Linked DNA regions of Homo sapiens. The gene in region 4 interacts genetically with the main gene of each other region. Each region holds a gene or a part of one and is shown on either strand. Other genes may lie near its edges.

What was found.
Region 1: changes in TMEM165 (region 4) and PTAR1 are lethal when combined (synthetic lethality), as found in Homo sapiens cells (one study listed by BioGRID).
Region 2: changes in TMEM165 (region 4) and UBE4B are lethal when combined (synthetic lethality), as found in Homo sapiens cells (one study listed by BioGRID).
Region 3: changes in TMEM165 (region 4) and WDR62 are lethal when combined (synthetic lethality), as found in Homo sapiens cells (one study listed by BioGRID).

Annotation. Positions count from the first base shown.
Region 1 is NC_000009.12:69,728,999-69,736,024, reverse strand, and holds part of PTAR1 (protein prenyltransferase alpha subunit repeat-containing protein 1), read left to right. Parts: intron 1-1,770; coding exon 1,771-1,875; intron 1,876-3,672; coding exon 3,673-3,886; intron 3,887-7,026.
Region 2 is NC_000001.11:10,098,953-10,105,978, forward strand, and holds part of UBE4B (ubiquitin conjugation factor E4 B), read left to right. Parts: intron 1-2,155; coding exon 2,156-2,243; exon of another isoform or gene 2,244-2,254; coding exon of another isoform or gene 2,255-2,272; intron 2,273-3,995; coding exon 3,996-4,140; intron 4,141-6,563; coding exon 6,564-6,792; intron 6,793-7,026. UniProt on the Homo sapiens protein: Ubiquitin-protein ligase that probably functions as an E3 ligase in conjunction with specific E1 and E2 ligases. May also function as an E4 ligase mediating the assembly of polyubiquitin chains on substrates ubiquitinated by another E3 ubiquitin ligase.
Region 3 is NC_000019.10:36,050,583-36,057,910, forward strand, and holds the start of WDR62 (WD repeat-containing protein 62), read left to right. Parts: upstream 1-4,314; 5' UTR 4,315-4,389; coding exon 4,390-4,566; intron 4,567-7,328. Other genes in the region: THAP8 (THAP domain-containing protein 8), read right to left, coding at 3,553-3,635. UniProt on the Homo sapiens protein: Required for cerebral cortical development. Plays a role in neuronal proliferation and migration.
Region 4 is NC_000004.12:55,392,138-55,398,965, reverse strand, and holds the start of TMEM165 (putative divalent cation/proton antiporter TMEM165 precursor), read right to left. Parts: upstream 3,010-6,828; 5' UTR 2,777-3,009; coding exon 2,570-2,776; intron 1,848-2,569; exon of another isoform or gene 1,695-1,847; intron 1-1,694. UniProt on the Homo sapiens protein: Putative divalent cation:proton antiporter that exchanges calcium or manganese ions for protons across the Golgi membrane.

The DNA.
Region 1 (7,026 bases), on a different chromosome or scaffold from region 4:
TTCAGAAGAAAAATAATCCAAGACTGCAAAAGCAATTGGCTGTTGCAAGAAAAAAATATATATTTTATATATATATTATATATATATAATGACAAATTGGTTTCCTGAACATTGAAAGGAAAATAGTTGTTTTCTTTATCAAATAAAACTTTATAAATAGTATGTCACTGTTGGAAAGAAAATGTATTGTGGTATTTAGGAATTAAGTCCGTCTAAGTAGATATGGTATAAGAGCTGGATTCTGGTTTTCTCTGGCTTAAACTTCTCTAAAATAAATGAATAATCAGCCCTACACAGGAAGGACATTTTAAGATAAATAATAACAAATGATCTGATTTTATTATAAAATTATAGATACATTGAGAATTCAGTGAGAGTGTAATATCAGCACTTATCAAAAACTTACCTGAGAAATTAAATGTAAATTGTATTTACCTGAGAAACAGGTATAGAAAGCTCTTGCATGACATTCTTTATATAGTTGGCCCTCTGTATCTGTAGGTTCTGCATCCATGGATTCAACCAACCGCAGATAGAAAATATTTGGGGAAAAAATTGCTTTCTGTAGCGAACATGTTCAGACTTTGTTTTCCTATCATTAGTCCCTGAATAATGTAACAACTATTTATATAGCATTTACATTGTATTAGGTATTATAAGTAATCTAGAGATGATATGAAGTATATGGGAGGATGTGTGTAGGTTATATGGCAACACATTTTATATCAAGGACTTGAGCATTCGCAGATTTTGGTATCCTTGGGAGGTCCTGAACCAAGCCCCCACAAGATACCAAGGGACAACTGATTGCATTGAAGCTTTGGTTGGGCTTGAACAGTTTTAAAAACAACCAAAACATTACATTGCTATTACTTCTGCTGCTTATATTAATATTTTAAAAAGGAATGGCCTCGTATATCAAGGGTCATGTAAGTATTTTACCTTGTTAATAGCTCTTTTGGAAACTTATCCAAAGTAAGAATACAAAAGAAAGAAGTTATAAGCACAAAGCTTCCCCTGCCCAGATTTGTTTTAAAATAACAAAAAGTTTGACGCAACCTAAATGTCTAACAAGAAGGGAAAAGCATAGCTTCTAAATGAAAACTAATTTGATCATTTAAAATGTTCATTACAAAGATTATATAGAATCATGGGGAAATTCTTAAGATATAATGAGAGCAGGATGTAAAATTATATGTTAAAATGTATGTGTGATAGGGAAAAGTAGAAGGGAAAATTCAAAAATAAAAAATAGTAATTTGGTTAGAATAGTGATTCCATGAATGATTTTTTTTTCCCTTACATCTCAACCATATTGTGTTTGTTGTATGTGTGGTTTTGTAATGAAATAGACCATGTCAAGTCCTATTTAGGAAACTAGACCAATTTTGGCTGGTATTGGATTGGCCCTATAGGTACGATATCAGGTCTCACAACTTTTGGAAATGAGATAGGCCAGAAAACCCCATTTACCCTCACGCAAATAGTTAAGATTTAAAAATCGTTAAAATCTGTTGATTTAAGAGCTTCTCTTTCTGCTTATTAGTTTGTTATATTGGGATTATGAGAATACATTCTTGATTACTGCATGTCACATTTATGAGTGTTTTATATCCCAGAGTGGCTTGGGCTTTTTTTCTTTCTTTTTTTGTTTTAAAATTCTTAGACATTCGCTTCACAATGAGATTATATTAAAAGCCATGTAGAACCTTTGGATATAAGGATAAAGTAATGTTTAATTTTTTTTTTTTTTTTTTTTTTTTTTTACAGGAAAGAGCTGATCCTCTCTGGCACTTTAAATCCAATTAAGGATTTACATCTGGGAAAACTCGCCTTAACCAAGTTTCCAAAGAGTCCAGAAACATGGATTCACAGGTGTGGTTAATTTACAACATAGTACTCTTACTTAGGATTCAGACTGGCTGGAGAAAGAAACATGACATGTGAGAGGCAAGGTTACTTATTGGTTCCAGAGCATGAATTCTGAAGTCAGGTTACCTACATTTAAATCTAGGAGCTATATAACTTGCTACCTAAGTGTTCATGGGAAATTACTTAACTCACCAAGCCTCAGTTTTCTCATTTGTAAAATGAGAATAATAATTACACCTGTCTCATATAGTTAACAGTCAAGTTTACGTGAGTTAATGCATGTAACACTCCCACAGTGCCTGGCACATATTAAATACTCAATAAATGTTAGCTATTATTAACTCTTTGAAGCAGTTGTGGGCATTGCATTTATAGATACTCAACTGTAATGAGCAATATGGATTTTAAAAGCATTTGGTTGTTTTCCTGGTAAAGATGTTGGTGGTGATGGTTGTGGTTATTAAAATTAACTTACAGAGAAAGCTGAGGGCAGCTGAAGCGAATGCTGTGTAGGCTGAGCTAAAGTTGCTAAAATCCATACATACAAAGAACATTTTTAGGTTAAAAGCATGGGACAGATAGCCAGAATGCACTTTAGGACTCTCAAAATCCTGGCCACCTGGAACCATCTTCCTCTTGGACCCTGTGTAACTACTCTTATTTGACCAAAATGGGATGGTGTGGGCTTGCTAGTCAGGACCAATGAAGAAGTCACTCTGAAATTCTCAGTTTATTAAGCCACTCTAATTTTTCTTAAATCGTGGGCATTTTTAGGATCTTATGTCCGTTCCAGGTGTCTTAGTGGTAATCGTGCCTTTAGTTAACATTGCAGGTCAGCTTCTTCCAAACCACATAGTCAGTTATATTTTCTTCATCACCAGAAATTGAGATAGTATACCACAGAAGGGTATATGACTGTGTGTATGGGGGTTTGGAAAGGGATGGTGGCAGGGGAAAGGAACTGTTAAATATGCATCCATCAGTTTGGCTTGTCTAATTTTTTTTATCAAGCAATATTTTGTTGTTAAATAAGAAATTCCATTATTTTAAAATGACAAAGTGAGTTTTCTTACTTAATTTCCTGTACCTTTGGGTTTGAAATCTTTAGTCTAAAAAATGCTTTTATATAAGTAAATTACTGGTACAAAGTAAACACATTAAGTAGCTCGAAACACTATTTAGTGTTTTTTATGTAAATACATGTTAATGCAAATCTTAAACAGACAAAGGGAGAATTTGTGGATAAGGATATTTTGACACCTTCTTAATGGTTTAATGAATTATATTTGTTACCTTCCAGATTTTATGCTATAATACAGAATTTTGCTGAATGAAAGCTATCAGAATGCAGCTTCTTGTTTGCAAACAAATGCACATAGGGTGAGGCATGCATATATACTTAAAGATGTGAATCATGACTCCTTATAATATTTATCAGCCATTAATTTATGACCTCTCACCACGACCACACACACACACACCAATTGCCTTTACATTTCCTGGCCAAGTGGAGTTTTGGGATTGTCATTTTAGAAGTAATGACATTCTCTGTATTACAGATTTTAAAGTTTTTTTTTTTTCCTGTTTATCCATTTTCCACCCTTCATCCATACTGCTAAATTAGTATCATCATAAACAACAAAACAACCCCTCCCCATCTCCAAAATACTAGACTTATAAACAGGTATTATTTTGCATTGTCTCTGAATGGAAATTAAATTAGGAACAATGAAAACTGGTTATTTTTCTCTCTGGTTTATGTTCTTTCTGTGTTCTCTTTCCCACATGCTGCCTTAACAGGCGATGGGTGCTACAACAGCTAATTCAGGAAACCTCCTTGCCTTCCTTTGTGACCAAAGGAAACTTGGGAACAATTCCCACAGAAAGGGCACAGCGACTCATACAAGAAGAGATGGAGGTCTGTGGTGAAGCAGCAGGGAGATACCCAAGCAACTATAATGCTTGGTCCCATCGCATCTGGGTTTTACAGCACTTGGCCAAGCTAGATGTCAAGGTAGGAATATTACTGTCTCCTGGGCAGACTGCCTGTCTGCCCTTAAAATCTTCTGGTAGTAGTTCATTCTCAGAAGAGCTTTGAAGGAGTAGAGAAACTGATGGTCTGGCAACTTGAGAGAATCGCAACAGCTGCTACCTCTGGAGGAACCCTGTAATTAAATAAAAAGCTTGCATTCCCCACTAGTGCTGTTTTTGGCAGTCTTAAGGCTAGTGCATTGGTAAAGCAAGGCAGGTTTAACCAACTGAGGAAGATTGAGCATAACTCACTTTATCCTGAAACAGGAAGGGATTATTAAGCCTTATAGAACTGGAATTGCTATTTCTTGGTAGTGTTTGGTTATGTGACAATATACTAAGTCAGCTGGCTGTCTTTTCACACTCTCGTCCTCTGAAAAGGGGGAGAGGAGGGCAGGGATAGACAATCTCACCCAGGTGTTTTTAAAATTGGCTGAGCCTATAAATTACCTGGGGATTCCTAAGTTCCACTCCAAGCCTACTAAAGCAGAATGAGGGTGGATCTAGAGATCAGTATTTTCCACTGACTCAGGGTTATTTGAATGCAGAGCCAGTTTGGAAACTCTCACAGCCTAATCCTTTCAGTTTAGAAATGAGGAGATGGAGATTTCCAGAGAATTTTAATGGCTTAGACTTAGCTACAGTTGTACCACTTATTATTCATCAGAATGAGAGCCACATGTCCCTTTTGCTCCTTATATACTACGGTGTCTCAGTTTTTTCTTTTCTGATGGCGTCACAGTGCCATAAGAATCTAGGGTGCTCATCTAAAAAGCTTCTCAGGCTTGAGACAGTTAAAAGAGGTCAAGTTGAAGATTGAAGTGCCCCAGGTGATGCTTTCAGATAAGTGGGGAAGTGTTATGTAATTTTAACTTACCACCCTCTTCTTCCTACATCCCTCTTCCCATGCTCCCATTTCTCTCTTTGTTTCCTGGCCAGGGCAAATGGGAGACTTTTTACTTCCAGAGGATTTTAAGCCAATAATTCTGGAAGAGAAGCCTTCCCCATTCAGTTTACATGGCTTTGAGTTTCAGGAGGGGTGGCCGCCTAATGGAATAGAAAGAACCAAGGCTCAGAATCACATCAACCTAGGTTCAGATTTTGGCCCCACTACCTATATGTGGAAAGCAAGGTTTTATTGTTTTCATTTATAAAATAGGGACTCTACTGTCTGCCTCAGTGGATTATTGTGAGAGTTAATTGAGTTAATGGATGTAAATTACTGGGCATCTAATAGAGAGAGATTCACTCGATTTTAGTTCCTTTCTCTGTTCTCCAGAGATAGAAAATTGGCTACCAGTTTGCTTGATCAACTCCGTGCAATTTATTGATGAAAAAGTATAAAACCCTATCATACCCACCGACTGTCCTGTATACGCAGTAAAACAAAGTGTTTGCTCTCAACAAATTGAAAATCTAGTTGAGAAAGTAGACCAACAATTACAAAGCATCAGAATACAATGGGAGCACAGAAAAATCGTTCTTCATCTAGGATGCGCTCGTTGGAAATAGCTGCCGGGGGAAGGAAGATACATTGAGTTGGGAGGCATGATTACAAGTTGTTTGGTGGGTTGTCAGGGATATGGAGTGCTTGGTGGTCATCTCAGATCCATGACTTGATAGTGTGTGGGAAGAGGAAAGAGATATGGGGAGGATTGGGGATAAAAAGGAAGGCGGAGTCCAGGTTGACTGAGAGATCTTTGGAAATTTTTCTGCCATGATGTGGACCTTTACAAGTGGCATTTCCATAAAATCAGGAACAAGGGGCCAAAGTGAAATTTTTGGTTACTTGAGACCATCTGGTGGTAAAGATAACTCATTAATGGTGAGTTATAACTCATTAATGGTGAGCTCAGCTGCCAGGGTCCACTCCTGGGTTCAGATGTCATCATCCTTCCTTGACCCGCCCTTGGAGGAAGACTTACCATTCTTCCATTCACCACTTGCCACTGCAACATCTCTTGCTCTTGTTGTCAGTGAGGAGTCCTAAATTTGCAAAATCCCCTTTCTGTTGTTATAAGCCATTGGGCCCACCTAGAACATTTACTACTATGCTTTGTCTGTTACAGGAGGTAATCACAAAAATACCAGTAGTCTAAATCAGCTTAAAAATATATATGAAATGAGCCAGCATTTTTTAACTTAGGAAATTGAAAATGACTTTTTAAAGTGCTGGCATCGAGTATTAGTAAGAGTATGAAAATGAGCATTATTCAAATTGTTATAAGCTTACTGAAGGGCAACATGGCAGCACTTATCACACTTTTAAAAATAGGGTGTTATTTTTAAGAGTTCTGCTTCCAGGAATTCATCATAAAGAAATAATGGAAGATGAAGTATGGTAGAATGATTAGAAGCTTCACTCAGTGGTCATGCAGACCTGCTTTGCATTCTGGCTTTACCACCAATTTGCTGTGTAGCCTTGAGGAAGTTGCTTAGCCTCTTCAACCTTCAGTTTTCTCATCCGGAAAAGGAGGGTGACAATAATTCCCATCTCACTGAGTGATGCAAATTGAAAGGGAGGATTCATATAAAGTGGCTATCAAAGTGCCTTAATTAAGTGCTCAATAAACACTGGCTATTAAATATAGAAGTTTGATATATAAAAGTAGCATTTATAGTAGTGAAAAACTAGAAAAGCTGTAGCCCTTCAATAATGAGGGAATTGTTAGATTACAATCCATCACATTGGAATATTTTGTTATGACTAAAATGTATATTTTGGAAGATGATTTAAAGGAAAATATTCACAATAGGTTATATTAGGGTAGGCCTAATATTATTATTTATTTATTTATTTTTGAGACAGGGTTTTGCTCTGTCGCCCAGGCTGGAGTGCAGTGGCACAATCTCAGCTCACTGCAACCTCCGCTTCCCAGGTTCAAGCGATTCTCCTGCCTCAGCCTCCCAAGTAGCTGGGATTACAGGCACCCACTACCACGCCCAGCTAATTTTTATATTTTTAGTAGAGACGGGGTTTCGCCATGTTGGTCAGGCTGGTCTTGAACTCCTGACCTCAAGCAATCCACCTGCCTCTGCCTCCCAAAGTGCTGGGATTACAGGCATGAGCCACCACACCCAGCAGCCTAATATAATTTTTAATGTATTTATTAGCATTGAATG
Region 2 (7,026 bases), on a different chromosome or scaffold from region 4:
GTTGGCTGGGCACAGTGGCTCACACCTGTAATCCCAGCACTTTTGGGAGGCCGAAGCAGACAGATCACTTGAGGTCAGGAGTTCGAGACAAGCCTAGCCAACATGGTAAAACCCTGTTTCCACTAAAAATACAAAAAAAATTAGCCGGGCATGGTGGTGCGTGCCTGTAATCCCAGTTATTTGGGAGGCTGAGGCAGGAGAATTGCTTGAACCTGGGAGGCAGGGGTTGCAGTGAGCCAAGATTGCACCACTGCACTACAGCCTGGGTGACAGAGCAAGACTCTGTCTAAAAAAGAAAAAATTATTTACATGTAAACTTTCTATGTATAAATAAATAAGTTGCTTATAAGAAGTGTATATTTAAAATCAGTTGCATTCCTGTCTGCCAGCAACAAAAAGTTAGAAAACGTAATTTTTAAAAAGGTGCCATTCACAATTTCATTAAAAAGTATTAACATATGGTACCTAGGAATAAATTTAGCAAAAGAAGTATAAAATTTTTATAGAGAAAATTACTAAAGCTTATTGATAGACCTTAAAGAAGATCTTAATACTTGGAGAGTAATGAAAACTCAGTAATATATTACTTCTCCCCAAGTTGATCTCTAAGAGTGAAAAAAATTTTGGTCAAAATCCCGGGAGGGTTTTTAAGGAATTCCTCAGGCTGATTCCTAAGTATGTGTAGAAGAGGAAAGAGCCAAGGATAGCAAAACCTCTTAAAGGAGAAGAATAAAGTGGAGACATTGACCTAGCAGATATCAAGATTTGTGAAGTTTTAGTAATTAAGACAAAGTGGTATTGGCCAGGGACAGACAAATTGTCTAACAGAACAGTAATGAGTCTCCAGAAATAGACCCACTCGTTAATGAAAATTGGACACGTGACATAGGAGCTTTCATATTAATGTAAAAAGGATGATCTTTCCAGTAAATGGTGCTAGGGCAATTGTTCAATCGGGGATAAATGATATGTACTTAACCAGTTTTTATAATAAGACTTCAGTTGAGTTTTTTATTTTCTTAATTAAATTTTTTATTTTTATTTTTTATTTTTTTGAGATGGAGTCTCGCTCTGTCGCCCAGGCTGGAGTGCAGTGGCGCAGTCTTGGCTCACTGCGAGCTCTGCCTCCCGGGTTCAGGCCATTCTCCCGCCTCGGCCTCCTGAGTAGCTGGGCCTACAGGTGCCCACCACCATGCCCGGCTAATTTTTTGTATTTTTTAGTAGAGACGGGTTTCACCATGTTAGCCAGGATGGTCTCGATTTCCTGACCTTGTGATCCGCCCACCTCGGCCTCCCAAAGTGCTGGGATTACAGGTGTGAGCCATCGTGCCTGGCCTATTTTCTCAATTAAATTTTTAAAAATGTTTATTTAATTTTTTTTAGAGCCAGAGTCTTGCTATGCTGCCCAGGCTGGGATACAGTGGTTATTCACAGGCACAGTAATAGTGCATACAGCCTCAAACTTCTGGGCTAAAGTGATCCTCCAGCTTCAGCCTCCTAGGTAGCTCGGACCATAGGCGCATGCCAATATACCTGGCCTGGTTGAATTTTATGTCATTTTAAAATACTATATATAGGTAACCTACTTTAATGATATACTTTTATTTATTTATTTATTTGAGACGGAGTTTCGCTCTTGTTGCCCAGGCTGGAGTGCAATGGTGCGATCTCGGCTTACCGCAACCTCTGTGTCCTGAGTTCAAGTGATTCTGCTGCATCAGCCTGCCGAGTAGCTGGGATTACAGGCATGTGCCACCACGCCTGACTAATTTTATATTTTTAGTAGAGATGGGGTTTCTCCATGTTGGTCAGGCTGATCTCGAACTCCTGACCTCAGGTGATCCACCTGCCTTGGCCTCCCAAAGTGCTGGGATTACAGGCGTGAGCCACTGCACTCGGCCAATGATATACTTTTAAAAAGTAAGCCCAAGAAAATGACAACTTAGGAAAAATATTTCCAACATGTATAAGAGACAAATTGTTTAGATCCTAATTTATGAAGAACTCTTAAAAATTAATAAGAAAAAAGATGGACCATTATCATTTTCCTTTCCTGATTAACTGATATTTTAAAACATTTTCTCACCCAGCAGCTACAGTGACATTGTGCGGATTTATAAAAGGTAAAAGGCTTGTTTGTCTTTTGTACTTTAAGCATGTCCCAGGTGGATGTGGATTCAGGAATTGAAAACATGGAGGTTGATGAAAATGATCGAAGAGAAAAGCGGAGCCTCAGTGATAAGGTTGGTAAGCGATGAAGCCCTTGGTACAGGTAATAGAAATAAACACATTTCATGTCTTGTATCTGTAGAGTCTGTTAGATTGGGGCCACCCGAAATCAGGAAGTCCTAGGCAGGTGATTATTTTTATTCTTTTGAGGAAAAATGAATAACCTAGATTACCCTTATTCATGAAAGTGTAACTCAGTCCTTTGATCTGATAATATCCATCTGTTTTTGGTTCAGGGCCATGATTTTATCAGTAAATTTAGGTTGTAATAGGAACTAATTTAGAGCAAATTAGAATTCTTTCTGTTGGTCTTTTGCTTTTTTTTTTTTTTTTTTTTTTTTTTTTGAGACAGAGTCTCGCTCTGTCGCCCAGGCTGGAGTGCAGTGGTGCGATCTCGGCTCACTGCAAGCTCCGCCTCCCAGGTTCACACCATTCTCCTGCCTCAGCTTCCCAAGTAGCTGGGACTACAGGCGCCCGCCACCACGCCCAGCTAATTTTTTGTATTTTTAGTAGAGATGGGTTTTCACCGTGTTAGCCAGGATGGTCTTGATCTATTGACCTTATGATCCACCTGCCTTGGCTTCCCAAAGTGTGGGATTACAGGCGTGAGCCACTGCGCCTGGCCTGGTCTTTTGCTTTTAAGCAAGTAGATCATCACATCTTTAGCAGTATTCTGAGGAAAATGACTGGGAATTGAAGCAAGAATATGTAGAATCTAGTCGCAAGTAGAAGGTTTTGGAAAACATGAAGCCTTTATATTTGAATATCACCTGAGCTTAGTGCTCTGCATTTAGGGTGTGTGTGTGTGTGTGTGTGTGTGTATTAATATAGATAATTACATCACTTTCTGTTTAGTAAATTATTAGGAATCCTTTAGCAACACATGTTAATGATTATTGGAAGTTGCACTGTAAACAAAAATAAAGACAAACAAAGGAAAAAATAAGAAGTTGCACTGTAGCCTCCTAGTGGTGCAGTGCTTTATTTTGTATAGTTCTTTAATGTTTACAAAATTCTTTTTTATATGCTGTTTTATCTGTGGTGGTATGTAATGAGAAATGTTACAATTTTGAAAAATTCCTGGAGGAAAATTGGTCATGCACCTGGAGTGTTAACCTGGTCCTATGGAATTCAGAAAAGTAAATAGATAGGATATGTACATCCTCTGTCACATATTTTTCCTTGGTGACTTTTGATAATGACTTTGCTCTTTTTTTTTTTTTTTTTTTTTTTTTTTTTTTTTTTTTGAGACAGGGCCTCACTCTGTTGCCCAGGCTGGAGTGCAATGGCGTGATCTTGGTTCACCACAACCTCCGCCTCCTGGGTTCAAGCGATTCTCCTGCCTCAGCCTCCCAAGTAGCTCCGAGTAGCCAGGCCCGCAACCGCGCCTGGCTAATTTTTGTATTTTTAGTAGAGACAGGGTTTCACCATGTTGGCCAGGCTGGTCTTGAGCTCCTGACCTCAGGTGATCCACTGGCCTCGGCCTTCCAGAATGCTGGGATTACAGGTGTGAGCCACCACGCCCGGCCATCTTTGCTCTTTTATGCTCCCCATAGATTGTATTGTAAGCTCATGAGACTTAGATGTTGTAACTTTGATGTTATAGGAATAGGCTTACTTTTCCCCTAATCAGTGGGTGAATGGTTTCATGCATTTTTAAAATATCATCACTAATAATGAATTAAATCAGAATAACGTATTCCTATTGAAACACCTAACTCATACCTCTTATTTGAAATTAACCTGCAAATCTTCTTCTTCACCAGGAGCCTTCCTCGGGCCCTGAAGTGTCTGAAGAGCAGGCCTTACAGCTGGTCTGTAAGATCTTCCGTGTCTCTTGGAAGGACCGGGACAGAGATGTCATCTTTCTTTCTTCTCTTTCTGCACAGTTTAAGCAGAACCCAAAAGAAGGTAGGAATCTAGCTCAGCAGTCTTACTGCAGAGTACTCGACAAGAAAATAAGATGTGAGATCTTTGCCCTCTGTTATCCACATTCACTCCATCTTGCTCTTGGGTTGTATTTTTGATGACAGGGATACTTCTTGATGAGGACACAATTGTTTAGCCACTTTCTTCCCTTTCCACTGATCTTATCGATAACTTATTTTTCATTTCCATGATTTCTATAATACTATGTAAATAGGTTAATGGTCTCCATTTTCTCAGGGTTGAAGTTTTTCTCTTTGTAGTAAGAAGGTGCTTAGAGCATTACCTCCTCTTTATTTATTTATTTATTTATTTATTTATTTATTTATTTATTTATTTATTTTGAGATGGAATCTCACCCTATCACCAGGCTGGAGTGCAGTGGCATGATCTCAGCTGACTGCAACTTCTGCCTCCCGAGTTCAAGTGATTCTTCTGCCTCGGCCACTGGAGTAGCTGGGACTACAGGCGTGCACCACCACGCCCAGCTAATTTTTGTAGTTTTTTTTGTTTGTTTTGTTTTTGTTTTTTTTTTTTTTTTTGAGACAGAGTCTTGCTCTGGCACCAGGCTGGAGTGCAGTGGCGCAGTCTTGGCTCACTGCAACTCCCACCTCCTGGGTTCAAGCAATTCTCCAGCCTCAGCCTCCCGAGTTGGGATTACAGGCATGCGCCACCACACCCAGCTAATTCTTGTATTTTTAGTAGAGACAGGGTTTCACCATGTTGGCCAGGACGGTCTCGATCTCCTGATCTCGTGATCCGCCCGCCTTGGCCTCCCAAAGTGCTGGGATTACAGGCATGAGCCACCGTGCCTGGCCTCATTTTTGTAGTTTTAGTAGAGACAGGATTTCACCATGTTGGCCAGGATGGTCTCGATCTCTTGACCTCGTGATCTGCCTGCCTCGGCCTCCCAAAGTGCTGGGATTACAGGCTTGAGCCACCGAGCCTGGCCTTACCTCCTCTTATGAAGTATAGATATAGTGGGTGGTCTCCAGGGATCCTGAGAGAAGTGTTCTGTATGAGCTATACCTGCTTTAAGTGCCTATGAAGCCATGTATAGACGGTGGAATTGGTCTATTTGGTTAAATTGCTTAGCAAGATAGAACATAATGACATTTTGCTGTGTTTCTGATATTCCACTTTAAGAGGCCAAGCTTGTAACAAAATAATAAAACTCTTAGCAAGATATCAGCATCATAGGGCACTATCCTTTTTCTTTACAGTAGTCATTTGGAACGCAGAAGAGGTATGGGAGGTGTGCTGGAGTGGTTTTTTTGGCCTATCACTGGAATGTAACTTCCCTCATGGTAGGGATTTTTGTCTGTTTTACTCATTGATGTATCCCTAGAAGGATATCTTGCACAAAATAGTCCCTCAATAGATAGATTTTAAATGGATGCGTGAATATCAAGGAGATCACCTTTCTCTTTTCTATGCTGCCTATCTTCTGAGGAGGGAAAAAAAAAGTCCTTTGTATTTCTGGAGGATAGATAAGACTATTTCTGATTTTACTTATTAACTCTGCTAATGGAGCAGACCATGTATTTGAAACTCTGCTACTTGTTATTCTTATTATAAATCTTAAGATTCTCTGTCTTACACATGTAAGTGGCAAATCTGTCTTACACATGTAAGTGGCAATTTTAAATAACCAAATCAGATAAAATTTCCATGAGTTAAAACTTTTGTTAAAACAAGTGTCTTACACATGTTAAGTGGCAACTCTGTCTTACACATGTAAGTGGCAATTTTAAATAACCAAATCAGATAAAATTTCCATGAGTTAAAACTTTTGTTTAGTGGTATTTAAAATGTATCTAAAGACCAACAGTAAATCAACTGGGAGCTGCAAAGAATAAGAAGGAAGCTAGAATGTAGCATTTGCTCCTGAAAGCCACATGGTGACTAGATGTTGGACCCTTCATAAAATCTTTTGAACCTTGGACTTAATAGTTTTATTACTATCTATAAAACATATCTAGACTAAGAAATATTAACCCAGTTGCATTTGTAGTATAATAAAGTAACCTCTATAGTTGGGAGTAGCTTCTTTTTACAATTAATATACATCAGCGGTAACTCTCAATGACTGTACCCCAACTTTCTTTTTAATAAACTTTTAATTTTGGAATAGTTTCAGTTAGTGCAGGGAGTTCCTATATATACTTTACCCAGTTTCCCCTGACGTTAATATCTTATATAACCATGGTACATTTGTCAAAACTAAGAAATTACTACTAACTAAACACAAGGCTTTATTTAGGTTTTCCACTAATATCCTTTTACCATTCCAGAATCTAATCCAGGATACTGCATCGAACCATTTGGGGTCAGCTGGCTTATTCAAGGGCTGTGTAACCTGTGTTCGAACTGTGTGTAACCTGTTCTTTGTTCTGCCTTTCCAACAGTATTCTCCGATTTTAAGGACTTGATTGGCCAGATTTTAATGGAAGTGCTAATGATGTCCACTCAGACCAGAGATGAAAACCCATTTGCCAGTCTGACAGCCACATCACAGCCAATTGCTGCAGCAGCACGGTCACCAGACAGAAATCTCTTGCTAAACACTGGCTCCAATCCAGGAACAAGCCCCATGTTCTGCAGCGTGGCTTCCTTTGGTGCCAGCTCTTTGTCTAGGTCAGTGTGGTTCTCTTTGCACATCTTACTGGTAGTAAAATAACTGTGAACTACGTAGGAGAAGGGAATGTTTGTTGACAGTGTTAATCAGTGTCATACAGGGTATGGCATATATCATATTTGGGGAGGTGGATTTAGTCATTGGAAGTGGAATTCTCTTTTCTAGATTATTATTTTTTGGCTCTCTATGGTTAAGATATTGCTAGATGAAATTTTAGAAGCAGTTGGCTGTGT
Region 3 (7,328 bases), on a different chromosome or scaffold from region 4:
ATGGACTAGCGGTGAATGAAAAGGAAGGATCATGGGTAACTCCCAGGTCACGTACTCAGTTCCTCAATGTTTGATCCCTCACCTATCCATGAGCTCTGTCATGGCAGAAACAAGATCTGTCAGGATTCTTTGTGTCCAGCAGGGGCTTACTTGCTTCTCCAAGAAATACTCAAAAAGTTGCTGAATTAATCAATGTTGCCAGAGTCATACACAGGCTTAAAGTCCCTTTGGCCCTACACCAGGGTCCCTCAAAGGATCCGTGACACATGGACTGCTGGCTTTCCTGGAGAGCCCATCTGAAAGGCATTCACCAAATCCACCCAACGAATCTTTACTAAGAACCTACTATGTGCCAGGCAATATTCTAGAGGTTGGAGACACAAACAGGAGGAAAGAAGAAAGACAAAGAAAGACAAAACCTCTGGCTTGATTGAACTGATATTCTAGTGGGGGAGATAATGAATGAATACATCGAAAACGCAATATGCAGACAGTGATGTGTTAAAGAGAAAAATAAAGCAGGAGACAGAGAGAATCGTGTGTGTGTTTGGGTGTCAGTTACAGTTTTCCATAGGGTGGTAGTCATAAAGGCAAGAACTTTGAAATCAGAGGGAATCACACAGGCAAAGTCCCCAGGGCAGCAACATGCCTGCCACACTACAGGAACATGAAGTAGGCCAGTGTCACTGGTGTGAAGGGCAGGAGGAAAGAGATGAGGTCACACTGGTATCAGGGAACCAGCTCTGTAGGACTTTGCAGGCCTGCTTTCTACCTGTTCCAGCCTCACTTTATTTTTTATAGTGAGGTGGGAGTCACGGAAGGGATCTGGGCAGAGGAGGGCGCTGATCTGACTCAGGTGTTCACAGGCTCCCTCTGGCTGCAAGCAGGGAACAGACTGGGGGTGACGGTGGGAGCAGGGAGACCAATGAAGAGGCTGCTAAAATAGTCCAGTCTGGAGGTGATAATTGCCAGGAGCAGGATGCAGGAAGAGGAGAGGGTTAGAAGTGATCAAATTCTGGACAGTTTGTAAAGGGAGAGCCAACTGGATTTGCTGAGGGACTGGATGAGGAATGTGTCCTAGCCCACTTAGGCTAAGACCACCAGGGACAAACCTGTAGTCCAGCACTGTCAGATTTATTTACAATGGCAATGGGAGAGTCTGCACACTAGAGATACCATAGGCCAGGGGTCCCCAACTCCCAGGCTACAGACGGGTACCAGTCTATGGCCTGTTAGGAATAGGGCCACACAGCAGGAGGTGAGTGGCAGGCAGGTGAGCGAGTGAGAGAAGCTTCATCTGTATTTACAGCCACTCCCCACTGCTCGCATTACCACCTGAGTTCCGCCTCCTGTCAGAGCAGCAGCAGCATTAGATTCTCACAAGAGTGTGAATCCTATTCTGAACTGTGCATGTGAGAGATCTAGGTTGCCCTCCATTTTTTTTTTGTTTGTTTGTTTTTTGGGTTTTTTGGTTTTTTTTTTAGATGAAGTCTCACTCTGTCGCCAGGCTGGAGTGCAGTGGCGCAATCTCGGCTCACTGCAACCTCTGCCTCCTGGGTTCAAGTGATCCTCCTGCCTCAGCCTCCCAAGTAGCTGGGATTACAGGCATGTGCCACCACACCTAGCTAATTTTTGTATTTTTAGTAGAGACAAGGTTTCGCCATGTTGGCCAGGATGGTCTCGATCTCCTGACCTCGTGATCTGCCCGCCTTGGCCTCCCAAAGTGCTGGGATTACAGGCATGAGCCACTGTGCCTGGCCAGTTGCCCGCTTTTTATGAGAATCTAATGCCTGATGATCTGAAGCGTTTCATCCCAAAACCATTCCCCCAACCCTATCCCATCCGTGGAAAAACTGTCTTCCACAAAACCAGTCCCTGGTGCCATAAGGGTTGGGGACCACTGCCATAGGCCCTATGGGCCTTTGTTTTGTGAGGGAGTCTCAACAAACAGAGTTATTTTTTAGGTGAAATGTAAACTAAGCAGTGTTCAGATTGCCTCAAAGCAAATCAGAACTGTGTGTAAAGGGATCAATATCAGGTCCGGATGGTGAAGTGGGCCCAGGGTTTGTCTTCTCAGATGCAATAAAGTTTACATAGATGTAGAATATTGTGTCCTTATCTGAAGCTCCAAACCTGGATTGTAAATAGGGACTGCTTTTCTGTGTCAAAGTGACTTAGCTCCTCCAAGCAAAAGTGAGATGTTTCATTCTTACTTGATGTGATTTCAAACAGCAAAGTTTGTGATCATCTCTGACTTTAGACAACCAAAGTTTCCTACTAAGAAAGCAGTAGACACTCAAAGGATGGGAATTCTGCCACTTTACATCTGCAGTATGTCCAAGAGAAATATTTTTTCCTGGCTGGGTGCAGTGGCTCACGCCTGTAATCCAAGCACTTTGGGAGGCCGAGGCAGGAGGACTGCTTGTGCCCAGGAGTTTGAGACTAGACTGGACAACATAGGGTGATCCCATCTCTCTCTTTAAAAACAAAATTTTTTTTTTTGAGACGGAGTCTCACTCTTGTTGCCCACGCTGGATTGCAGTGGCCTCATCTTGGCTCACTGCAACCTCTGCCTTCTGGATTCATGCGATTCTCCTGCCTCAGCCCACGGAGTAGCTGGAATTACACGCATGAGCCACCACGCCCATCTAATTTTTGTATTTTTAGTAGACACGGGGTTTCACCATGTTGGCCAGGCTGGTCTCGAACTCCTGACCTCAGGTGATCTGCCCGCCTCGGCCTCCCAAAGTGCTGGGATTACAGGCGTGAGCCACCAAGCCTGGCAAAAAAAAAAAAAAAAAAAAAAAAAAAAAAAAATTTAAATTATCCAGGCATGGTGGCGCGTGCCTCTGGTCCCAGCTACTTGGTAGGGTGAGGTGGGAGGATCACTTGAGCCCGGGAGGTCGAGGTTGCAGTGAGCTGTGATCGTTCCACTGCATTCCAGCCTGGGCGACAAAGCGATCTTGTCTCAAAAAAAAAAAAAAAAAAAAGCAAAGAAATGTTTTTTCCTAGTAATTCTTCCACCAACTGGCTTATGTCAGCCAGATAAATAAGGAGACAGATCTTTTACAGTCGAAGCTAATTCTGACTTTCCCAAGTATGACGAAAGAGGTAAGGATGACATTTTTTAAACCTAAGCAACAAGAAGAATGAAGCACGCTACTAAGATAAGACAGACTGGAAGGTTTTGGGGAGACACGATCGCAAGCTCAGTTTCGGATGCTCTGAGTTTCAGATGGCTCAAATGCGTGGGGAGGGCAAGTGGGCATCTGCAGGCTCTCTAACAGCCTGCACCGACTTCACTTCTTACATCCCTTTCACTCTTCGGCTCGCTTCGCTCGCTATCTGTAGTCAATCGTCTACTCCTGTTTCCCACGCCTGCACCTTTGTATGTGCAATGGACACTGCCAGGAAGGCCATCTCCTCATGGTTTAACCCCACTTCCTAACACCCTCAAGCAAGACCAGAAGCCCCGCACAGCAGCACTAATGCTCGGGCCCCACCCCTCTCAGGGTCCCGCCTCCCTCAAGCCCCGCCCCGCGCTGCGCTCACTTGTAGAAGCTCACAGGGCGGTTGTCTGCACCCAGGCGGCCCGCAGTGTTGGAGCAGTTCGGCGCCCTGCAGTACTTGGGCATGGCTATCCAGCCCCCGCTGAGTTTTGCCGGGTCAGCGGCTGCACTTTGGTTCTCGCGGAGCGCCGCCTAACCCCGCCCCACCCGCGCTCGCCGCCTGCCTCACGTGACGTCCGTGGAGTCTCGTCACGTACCGGGGAGAGAGCTGAGAGCGCCTGCCTACTAGGCGCCCCTCCACAGTGCCACAGTCCCGCCCTCGTCACGTGACGAATGGGCCATAGCGAGTACTGTGCACCTGCGCAAAGCCGGCCCTTCGTCACCCCGACTTTCATCACGTGTTGGGGGGAAGGGCGGCGTCACGGCGTTTCTGAGCCTGCGCCAACCAAATCAACTGGCTAGTCAATCTCTTACGGCTCCACCCTACGCCTACATCCGGGCAACCGTTGGGGCGCACATAGTTCCTCTAGGTGGCGGCAAAAACCGAGGTGAGGCGGCCGTGGCCTTAGCCTCGTAAAAATTAAAACCTGTATGTTTCAGCGAATAATGAAAACGCAGTCTGGATGAAAGACCCCATGACGCTTAATCAGGCATCCAGTACACTGGCTGTGGCCCCGCCCCGCCAGGCACTCGCTCCGCCTCTTCGCCCCCATTGGTTCTAAGCGCCGCCCGGCATCCCTGCGATTGGCTAGGCCGGGCCCGTCGCGTCCAATAGGCGGTGGCGCCGGCTTTCCCGCGGCTGTTCGCTGTTCCAGTGGGTCGTGGCGGTGGCGGCAGCGGCGGTTAGGGGATGTAACGGTCGCCCGCCTCCGGCGTGACGATGGCGGCCGTAGGGTCCGGAGGCTATGCGCGGAACGATGCAGGGGAGAAGCTGCCCTCTGTCATGGCGGGAGTTCCGGCGCGGAGGGGCCAGTCCTCCCCGCCCCCCGCCCCACCAATCTGCCTACGGCGGCGGACGCGACTCTCGACGGCCTCCGAGGAGACGGTGCAGAACCGGGTGAGAAGCTGCTCGCCATGTCTACCCCAGTTCCAGGCTTCCTAGGTTTCCCCTAGTCCCGTCCTGAGAACTGTGGCCCCGACATCAGCCCCCGGCCAGTCCCCTCAGGTTGTTCCCTGCCATGCCTCGTCCCCTAACCCCCGCCCCTTTAGCCACGGCCCCTCCCACTTTCTCCTCGCTGCTTTCCCGGCTCCACCCTCAGCGTTGGAGCAATTCGGGGGTTCCTCGCTGGTTCCCACCCGTGGAAATGCATTTTGCTTCTGTAAATCACAGCCTAGTCCTGCTATATTTTAACCCCCGTTCTATCGCCTTTAGACGTCACGATCATAGCTCACTGCAGCCTCACTGCCCTGGCCCCCGCTGAGTCATTAAGGTCCCTTCGAGGGTTCGGTCCAGAGTGTTACCTGCCCCAACTCTTCCTCGCTTCTACCCCGCCTTCTCTCACCTTCTGCGATCTCTATCCTTTTTCCTCACCAAGGTGGGATTCTTAATCCATATTGTCACTCAAAACTATGAGAAAGACGTGAGAAGTTATTTATAAAATCTCTGCAGTGCTGCCTGGGGAGGAGGGCGTACAGAACAGTTCCCTAAATCCTGAGACAGAAAAATGGAAAGAAATGATTTCACAGTAGGTAGAAGGAATTCCATTAGCACAGCGGCAATTAAAAAAATTGTTTTCCAGCTGTGTAGGCACAAAATCTGTTTTTATAAAATGGAGATGATAAGAACCATACTACTGGTAGGGCGCGGTAGCTCACGTCTGTAATCCCAGCACTTTGGGAGGCCAAGGTGGGCTGTTCACCTGAGATCAGTTCAAGACCAGCCTGGCCAACATGGTGAAACCCGTCTCTACAAAAAGTAGAAAAATTAGCCCGGCATGCTAGCGCGCGCCTGTAATCCCAGCTACTCAGGAGGCTGAGGCGGGAGAAATCGCTTGAACCTGGGAGGCGGAGGTTGCAGTGAGCTGAGGTCATGCCACTGCACTCCAGCCTGGGCGACAGAGTGAGACTCTGTCTCAAAATAAATAAATAAATAAATTATACTATTGCATTGGAGGGAAATGAAATTTTAATTGTGATCTTCTTGGCACGGAGTCCAGATAAAGGGAGGATACCTGGTAGCTGCTGGTGGAGCTTGTTCCTGCCCCATGACTTTCTCCTGCACTGTGATTATACCGCCCACTCCTGGCTACAGGGCTCTGGCTGTACCTCCCATGTGCTCTCTGTCACCAAGGTTCAGTCACACTGGCCTGCTTTTGGTTTTCCTGAGGCTCCATATTCTTTTCTGCCTCCTGGCCTTTGTGATTGGTGAGTCCTCAGCCTGGGCTTTTTGCTGCAATCTGCCTGTCTGGCTCCTTCCCATCCTTCAAGTCTCAGCCTGAATGTCGCTATCTTGAAAGGCCTTCTCGAACCCCATTCTAAAGCAAACAGCCACCTTCATCTGTCACCCAGCACCCTATACTTCATAGCCTTTATCTTATATGTTCCTGAAAGTGCCCTTTGAGCTATTAAACTACATATAACAATAGCAAATTCAGAGAGGCGTTATAGCAAAGTGGCTAAGAGCACAGACTGCTGCTGATGGTATGGTTGGACCCAGGCAGCCTGAGCTTAAACTTTAGTCCTGTTCTTCCTGGCAGGTTATGAACTTCGCTTTTTCTTTTCTTTTTTTTTTTTTTTGAGATGGGGTCTTACTCTGTCATCCAGGCTGTAGTGCACTGGGTTGATCTCGGCTCACTGCAGTCTCAGCCTCCCTGGGCTCAGGTGATCTTCCTGCCTCAAGCCTCCTGAGTAGCTGGGACTGCAGGCGCATGCCACCATACCTGACTAATTTTTTTGTGTTTTCTGGTAGAGACAGGGTCTCGCCGTGTTGGCCAGGCTGGTCTTGAATTACTGAGCTCAAGCGATCTGCCTGCCTCGGCCTCCCAAAGTGCTAGGATTACAGGCGTGAGCTACTGTGCCCCGCCAAGTTATGAACTTATCTGTGCCTCAGTTTTCTTATCTGTAAAATGAGAATAATGATGTAGAAATCTCTCATAGGGTATTTGTGAGGATTCAATGAGGTTACATATCCTAGGCACTTAGAACAACACTGGCATATGGCAAGTACTCTATTCATGTTAGCTAATACTGATATTATGACTGTGTATTTGGGGTAATATTTATTTATTTTTTTTGTTTGGCAGCACAGAGTTGATCTGTCTTGCAAAGACCTAGTCTAAAAGTGACCATTCATACCAGGGCCCAGTAATGCTGATCGACAGATAAGACAACATGAGTGCCATGGCTTGGTTGTTTGTGTTGGAATCCTGGCACTACCCCTTCCTGGATGGGTAACCCCTCTTGGCCTCTGTTTCCTCAACTGTTTTGTTCCTTTTTTTTTTTGAGACAGAGTCTCACTCTGTCGCCCAGGATGGAGTGCAATGGTGCCATCTCAGCTCACTGCAACCTCCGCCTCCTGGGTTCAAGCGATTTTACTGCCTCAGCCTCCTGAGTGCCTGGGATTATAGGCATGGGCCACCACACCTGACTAATTTTTTTGTATTTTTAGTAGAGACAGGGTTTCGCCATCTTGGCCAGGATGGTCTCAAACTCTTGACTGAGCCACCACACCCAGCCTTGTTTAAATTTTAAATATTACTGTTCATGTGGTTTTTTACTCGTTGAAACCGCTCAAATTTCTGGACTGTGAATCTGATGTGGGGAAACTGTCTACCTTTGGTCACTACTGTGTCTCTCCTGTACAGCCCAAAGTGCTAGCTT
Region 4 (6,828 bases):
TCTTAATTCCATCTGGTGGATCCCTTGCAACTTAAAAAAAAAAGGTTGGATAGACACTATTAAAAATCGGGTTGTTGTTTTTTTTTTTTTTTCCTGGTTGAGTTTATTTTACAGCCAGTTTTTCCAGAAAGGTATTTAACAGCTGATATAAACTTGACATGCAACTACTTCAACCCAGTCTTAGAAAATTAGTTAATAAATGCCAAGAACAGACAAGGTCTTCTGGAATAGACAGATGAGTAAGCCAGAGTCATGCTCTCAAGACACCTAAAAGCTAGTAGGGGCAGATAAAACACGCACACAACTTGCAAGAACCCAAGGCAGCAAGATGTGTGTGTAAACATGCCACAACATACACAATAAAGTTCCCAAAAAAGGAGAAAGAGAAAGCTAGGCTCAAGATCAAAGAACTGCACCAGCATACAATCCAATAAACCATTAAAATCCATTAGTGAATTAAATAAGTCAAAAGAGTAAGACACAATGAATGCTAATAAAACTTAGTAAGGCACAGAAGTCCAGATTCTAATTCTGGTTCTGCTGAAACTAGCTTCTAGCTCTGTGATATTAAACCACTATTCCTTACAAACCTCCTCTACCTGTTTAACGTGCTGTTGTGAGGATTAAATCGGCTCCCAGAATCTTCACTTCCCAGTAACTTTATCTCCCAGATTCCCTCCCATATCAGAATCTCCTCATAGGCAGTTAGTTATTCAACTTCTTCCTGAGTACTTCCAGTAAGGGGAACTTCATTATTTCTCAATAGCGATTACTACATCTGGGACAGCACTGATTCTTACAAATGTTCTTGCTTAGTGAAACCAAGATCAGTCTCTCAGAAAGTTCTATCCTACGGTCTTACACAGAAAAACAACAGAAAATTGGAAAAGCCTAAGAAAGTAACATGTAACGAAAACATGAAACACGAAAACAATGCACCGGTGTGAGAGCTCACCAGCACTTGGGAGGCCAAGGCCGGAGAAGCGCTTGAGCCCAGGAGTTTGAGACTAGACTCGGCAACATAGTGAGACCTCCTCTCTCAAAAAAAAAAAAAATAAACAAAAATTAGCCGGGCGTGTCAGCACACGCATGCAGTCCCAGCCACTCAGGAGGCTGAGGTGGGAGGATCAATTAGAGGTTGCAGTGAGCCAAGACGGGGCCACTGCACTCCAGCCTGGGCGACAGAGCGAGACCCTGTCTCAACAAAGAAAAAGGAAAAAGGAAAGGAAGGGAGAAAGGAAAGGAAAAAGGAAAGGAAAGGAGAAATGAAAGGAATGGAAAGGAAAAAGGAGAAAGGAGAGGAAAGGAAAAAGGAGAAAGGAGAGGAAAGGAAAGGAAAGGAAAGGGTCAGATAAATCACCCTTAACCAAGAAATTTTAGGGAAGTCTTCACAGAGAGTAGGTATCTGCTGGTTCTCCAAGGTGGGAAGAGTTGATCCGTGGCTTCAAACTCCAGGTCTTTTTTTTTTTTTCTTTGAAAAGGTCTTGTGTTAGGGAGGAACTGGCAAGAGAGCACAAAGCCTGTCCCAAAGGGCTCTTGAAGCACATTCTTTTTTGCAGATGAGCATATCCCTTTAGCATATGAGCAAGAAAGCGGTGGCTAAAAAGCCTGGAGGTGAGCTGGAGCCAGATCAGAAGAAACCTGAACATCACTCTCCTAAAAAGGCTGGACTGAAATTAGTGGAGGCAACTCACCGACGACTTCTGACAAGATGGCAGAATTCAATGTTCGGGAAGATTAGTTACGTGGAGATGGGCTGGATGTGGCCTGGGTGGGAGTGGGGGTTTGAGTGCCACACTGGCCGGGATTCAGGGAGCAGATACTGGAAATGACGACAAAGCCCACGACTGGGAGAAGGGAGAAATGTTAAAACGCTGCCAAGTGACTAAGGACTAATTCTATTAACAGATTAAAAAGTTGATTTCTAGTATCTATTCAGGGAAGGACAAAATACAGGATTCTGTTTTACTTATAAATGTAGTTTTGGCATCCCACATCGCTGCAGCACGCTGTACTGCCGGAGACTAATTCCTCTGCGTTCCTAAAGGCTACTTCCTGCTAGCCAAAGCACATTTTTAAAAAGTGAGAGTCATGGTTCATAATCCATATTTGGCAAAAAGCACAGGCAGTGCCAAGTTGAATTTGGGTAAGCAGTTTGGCATAAGCTATTTCAACAATGAAATGGCCGATGTGATGATCCTCAGGGAATACAAAAAGCCTCCTAGCAGCCTTCTGTTAAAAACTTTTTGGTAGGGATGAGTCTTTCTAGCTACTCTAAGACACATCTGATCAATAAAACGCCCATCCCGGAGCAGCATCTTGGCCCTCCGGAGATCAACGTTTATAGCGGGCTCCTCTTGGACTCTCCCTCTCCCTTTCCCTAAAGGAGCGGGCAAGACCAGGCCTCACCGGAAAACAGCGCAGCCGACCGCCCTCCACCCCGGGAGCAGGGGCCGGGCTCCCCTCCCCCAGCCGAGGCCGGCGGAGTGCGGCGCTTTCAAAGGCCTGGAGCCTGGTACTCGGCGCAGCCGGCCCTGCAGCCTCGCTCGCCCCATCCCGGCCCGCTCACCTCGACCCGGGCCGGCTCGGGGCCCTGCACAGCCACAGGCTGCGGCTGCAGCTGCTGGGCCGGCGCCGGCGGTTCTTTGTTCCGGTGGCTAAGGTCTTCATCTGGGCCGGCCCGGACCGCAGCCGGGGCCCACAGCAGCGGAACCAGAAAGAGCAGAAGCAGCCGGGGCGCCGATGCGCGGCCGTTCCCTGGAGCCGCGGCCGCCATCCCGCCTGCCGGGCCGGCCGCGCACGGGCGCCGCAAGAGGAAGTGCCGGCGACGGGAAGCCTCGACCCCGAACAGCCTCCGCGGCGCGTCCTCACGACTCGCCGCCGCCGCCGCTTAGGGAGCAGTCAGCACCATCCGGGAGGTGCAAGCAGCGGGAGTGAGGTGAGGGGCAGGCCGAAGTCCGCAGCCCCGGCTCGGCGCCCGTCCTCTCCGGCGGCGGCTAAACTGGAGTCAGCCAGCTGCCTCGGCGCGGCCCAGCCCCGACTCCTCCCGGCCCCGTCCCTGCCCGCGACGGCCTCCCATTGGCCCGGCGACCGCCTTGGCGTCGTGACGTCCTCTGCCAGGTTGAGGTGCGGCGCGGGCCCTCCTCCCATTGGATCCGGCGCTCCCGGCAGGTACCCGGCGCCGCGTGTCCTTCCTCTGCTCGCATCCTCACCGCGCCGCGCCCGGGGCTCCCTTTCTCTCTCTGTGCCCCACCGTCCCAGGACTGCGAGGTCCTTCACTTCTGCTTCCTCCAGAGCCTTCCGCCGTAATGTCCGCACCCGCTGTTCCCTGCGCTTAGTCTCTCTTAGAGGTCAAATTAGTGCGAGCGCCTCTGGTTACGTGGCGCTGACTCGCAGGCACTGCCACGCCCAGCTCTGTTCCGCTCTCCCCCGCCGAGCCTCTGTGCCACCCTCCATGTGGCCACCTACCGCCAAAAACGTTCTTAGGAGCTCAAAATGCTATTTTTTTTTTAAAGTTCTGAAATGGGATTTGGAAATAACATGACATTTTTCAAGCCTTGTTTTAAGATACTGCCTATAATTACCCCAGACCAAAAATGGCTAACGTTGCCCTTGTCCAGTATGGCCTTGACGTTTTGGGTGCATCTTGTTTTGTGCTATTCCTTAGACCCTTTAAAAATGCTGGGCTTTTGAAATGGACTGTTTAAGACTTTTGCAGGATGGAGCTTTGAGTGGGCAAGACTAGAAGACAGGAAAGGATGGTCTTGAGTTAGGCTTGAGAATATTTTTACGTCTTCCCAAAAGAAAAAGTGAGCTACTTAATTACCATAAGTTTGAGACCTAGTCCCTAATAAAAATCGATAGTGCTAACCATGTGCCAGGCACTAATCTAATATTATACATATTTACATACAGTAAACCTGTACTCAGTAAAGAGCTAAGGAAGTTTATCACTAACTGAAACAAAAAATTAATCCACCAAAACAATCTGTGGGAAAGTGGGCAAACCTACTTTGAGTTCACCAAAGATACAGTGTTTGTCACAGGATAATAAAATTTCCGTCTGTTTTTTTGTTTTGTTGTTTTCTTTGTTTTTGTTTTTGAGACGGAGTTTCGCGCTTGTTGCTCAGGATGGAGTGCAATGGTGAGATCTCGGCCCACTGCAACCTCCTCCTCCCGGGTACAAGAGATTCTCCTGCCTCAGCTTCCCGAGTAGCTGGGATTACAGGCATGCTCCACCATACGCGGCTAACTTTGTAATTTTAGTAGAGATGGGGTTTCTCCATGTTGGTCAGGCTGGTCTCGAACTCCAGACCTCAGGTGATCTGCCGGCCTCGTCCTCTCAAAGTGCTGGGATTACAGGTGTGAGCCACCGCGGCCGGCCTCCGTCCATGTTATTCTGTCCGTAATTCCCCTTCTTCCATTCTCTCCTTGTAAACTCCTACTCATACTTCCAAAACCTATTCAAGCTTCCACTCTCAGAACTTTTCCCCAACACATGGCGTTACAGAATTTGTCACTTGTTCCTTCATGTTATTGCTTTATGCATTCTTCTATTACTGTGTAAGTAGGATGCCTCCACTTACAGTTTGGGGTGTGTTAAAAGAAAAACCTTAGACAAATTAAACTTAACAGCGTTTAATCAAGCAAAGAACCCAAAGAATGATCTGCAAATCAAAAAGACCCCAAATCAAAGTAAGTTCAGAGAGGCTCCAGTCTTGCCGAGTGGTCGGAAAAAATAAAGTGACTTACAGAAAACATAATTGAGGGACAGAAACAGCTGGATTGGTTGTAGCTCAGGTTTGCCCTATTTGAACACGGTTTGAACAGTTGGCCACTTGTGATTGGCCAGAACTCTGTGATTGGTACAAGAATAGGTTACAGTCTGTTTACATACCCAATTAGGCTACAGTTCACCATGTATGGGGAAACCTTTAGGCCTAACTTAAAATATGTAAGGAGGCAGCTTTACACTAAATTTAACAGATGCAACTATCATCCCTGGAGTGCAAATGTTTGAGCTTTCAGAAGCCAGTAATAACATAAAACCCAGAAGCCCAAACTTCAACTACCTCCCCTTAATGCATACAGGATTTGCTGTGCTTAAAAGGGGCCTGAAAGGGAGGCTTGAGGTCCCAAGGGAGGGACCTGAAAGGAGCAGCTTAGGCTGAAGACAGAGCCAGAAGGGTGAATGTAGCAAAACTGGCTGTGTGTCCCTCATTGCTGAAAGCTGCTTTGTTTATTTTCTAGGATGGGCTGCCCACACTCCAGGGCTTTCTCACAGGAAGGACTCCTGGCCAAATTCAGTCATCTCAACATATGAGGCAGTGAGGACTTCTGGGCTACAGCTGCAGGATGCTGAAGCACCAGCTGCTGAGCATGCAGTGGTTCAGGGGCAAGGCAGCAAAGCTATTTGGCAGAAGATGTAACATAAATGGAGATAGAGCATTGGCGAACTGGCACAGTGGTGTCAGCAAAGCATCAGAATCTGGGCCAGAGTGAGACCTTTCTAGCCTGCCCCAGTGTCACCCTGATCCAAGGGCCTTCAGGTGCTGCCAGGCTAGGCTCTAGGTGTCTGATTCTCATGGGATCTGGTATTTCTGTTTCCACACACATCTACCTCCTGGGATCCGTGCTCAGGCGTGCTAAATCGAGGCTGGCTCCAGTTTTCACCACCTTGAGGGTTTAGAGCCATCATCCTTCTAGTCCTCATTGGTGACTAACTCCCTTAAAAAAAGCAATTAAAAAACTATAGGAGCTTTCCTGATACCTTTCTTGAAGGACAACTGAAGCTACTTATTTAACCCCCTACCCAATAAGGATGTGGGTGGCGCAACAATTCCAAGATGATATATTTTTTAATCATAGCCTACACCGATATAGTCTTACTAAAATGTAACCACTGTCAGGCATCCTATGGAAAGAAACCCTACTACATGTGCATTACATTGTATTTTATTTAATTAATTTATTTATTTATTTTTGAGGTGGAGTCTCGCTCTGTTGCCCAGGCTGGAATGCAGTGGCAAGATCTCGGCTCACTGCAGCCTCCGCCTCCCGGGTTCAAGCAATTCTCCTGCCTCAGCCTCCTGAGTAGCTGGGATTACAGGCATGTGCTACACGCCCCACTAATTTTTTGTATTTTTAGTAGAGACGGGTTTACCATGTTAGCCAGGATGGTCTTGATCTCCTGACCTCGTGATCCGTCCGCCTTGGCCTCCCAAAAGTGCTGGGATTATAGGCATGAGCCACTGTGCCTGACCTATATTTTATTTTTTATTTATTTATGTAGAGATGGAGTCTCGCTCTGTCACCCAGGCTGGAGTGCAGTGGTGCGATCTCAGCTCACTGCAACCTCTACCTCCCAGGTTCAAGCGATTCTCCTGCCGCAGCCTCCAAAGTAGCTGGGACTATAGGCGCCCGCCACCATGCCTGGCTAATTTTTGTATTTTTAGTAGAGACAGGGTTTCACCATGTTAGCAAGGCAGGTCTCGAACTCCTGACCTCAAGTAATCCATCCACCTCGGCCTCCCAAAGTGCTGGGATTGCAGGTGTGAGCCACTGAGCCGGGCCTGCACTGTATTTTAATGTCTTTTATTCCAACACCCTTACTAAGCCTTAAGCTTCTAGATGGTAAGGTTATGCCTTTTATCTTTATATTTCTAGCACCTAGTAGATTATATAAGAAGGTAATGGGAATAGTTATCATTAAAGTAGTAGTAAAACTTTATTGAATGCTATTCTGATCCAGTCAGAGCACTAAGTGTGTTACATGAATTATTTCTATCCTCCTTTTTGCAAATGAGAAATCTGAGACTTAGGTCAAGG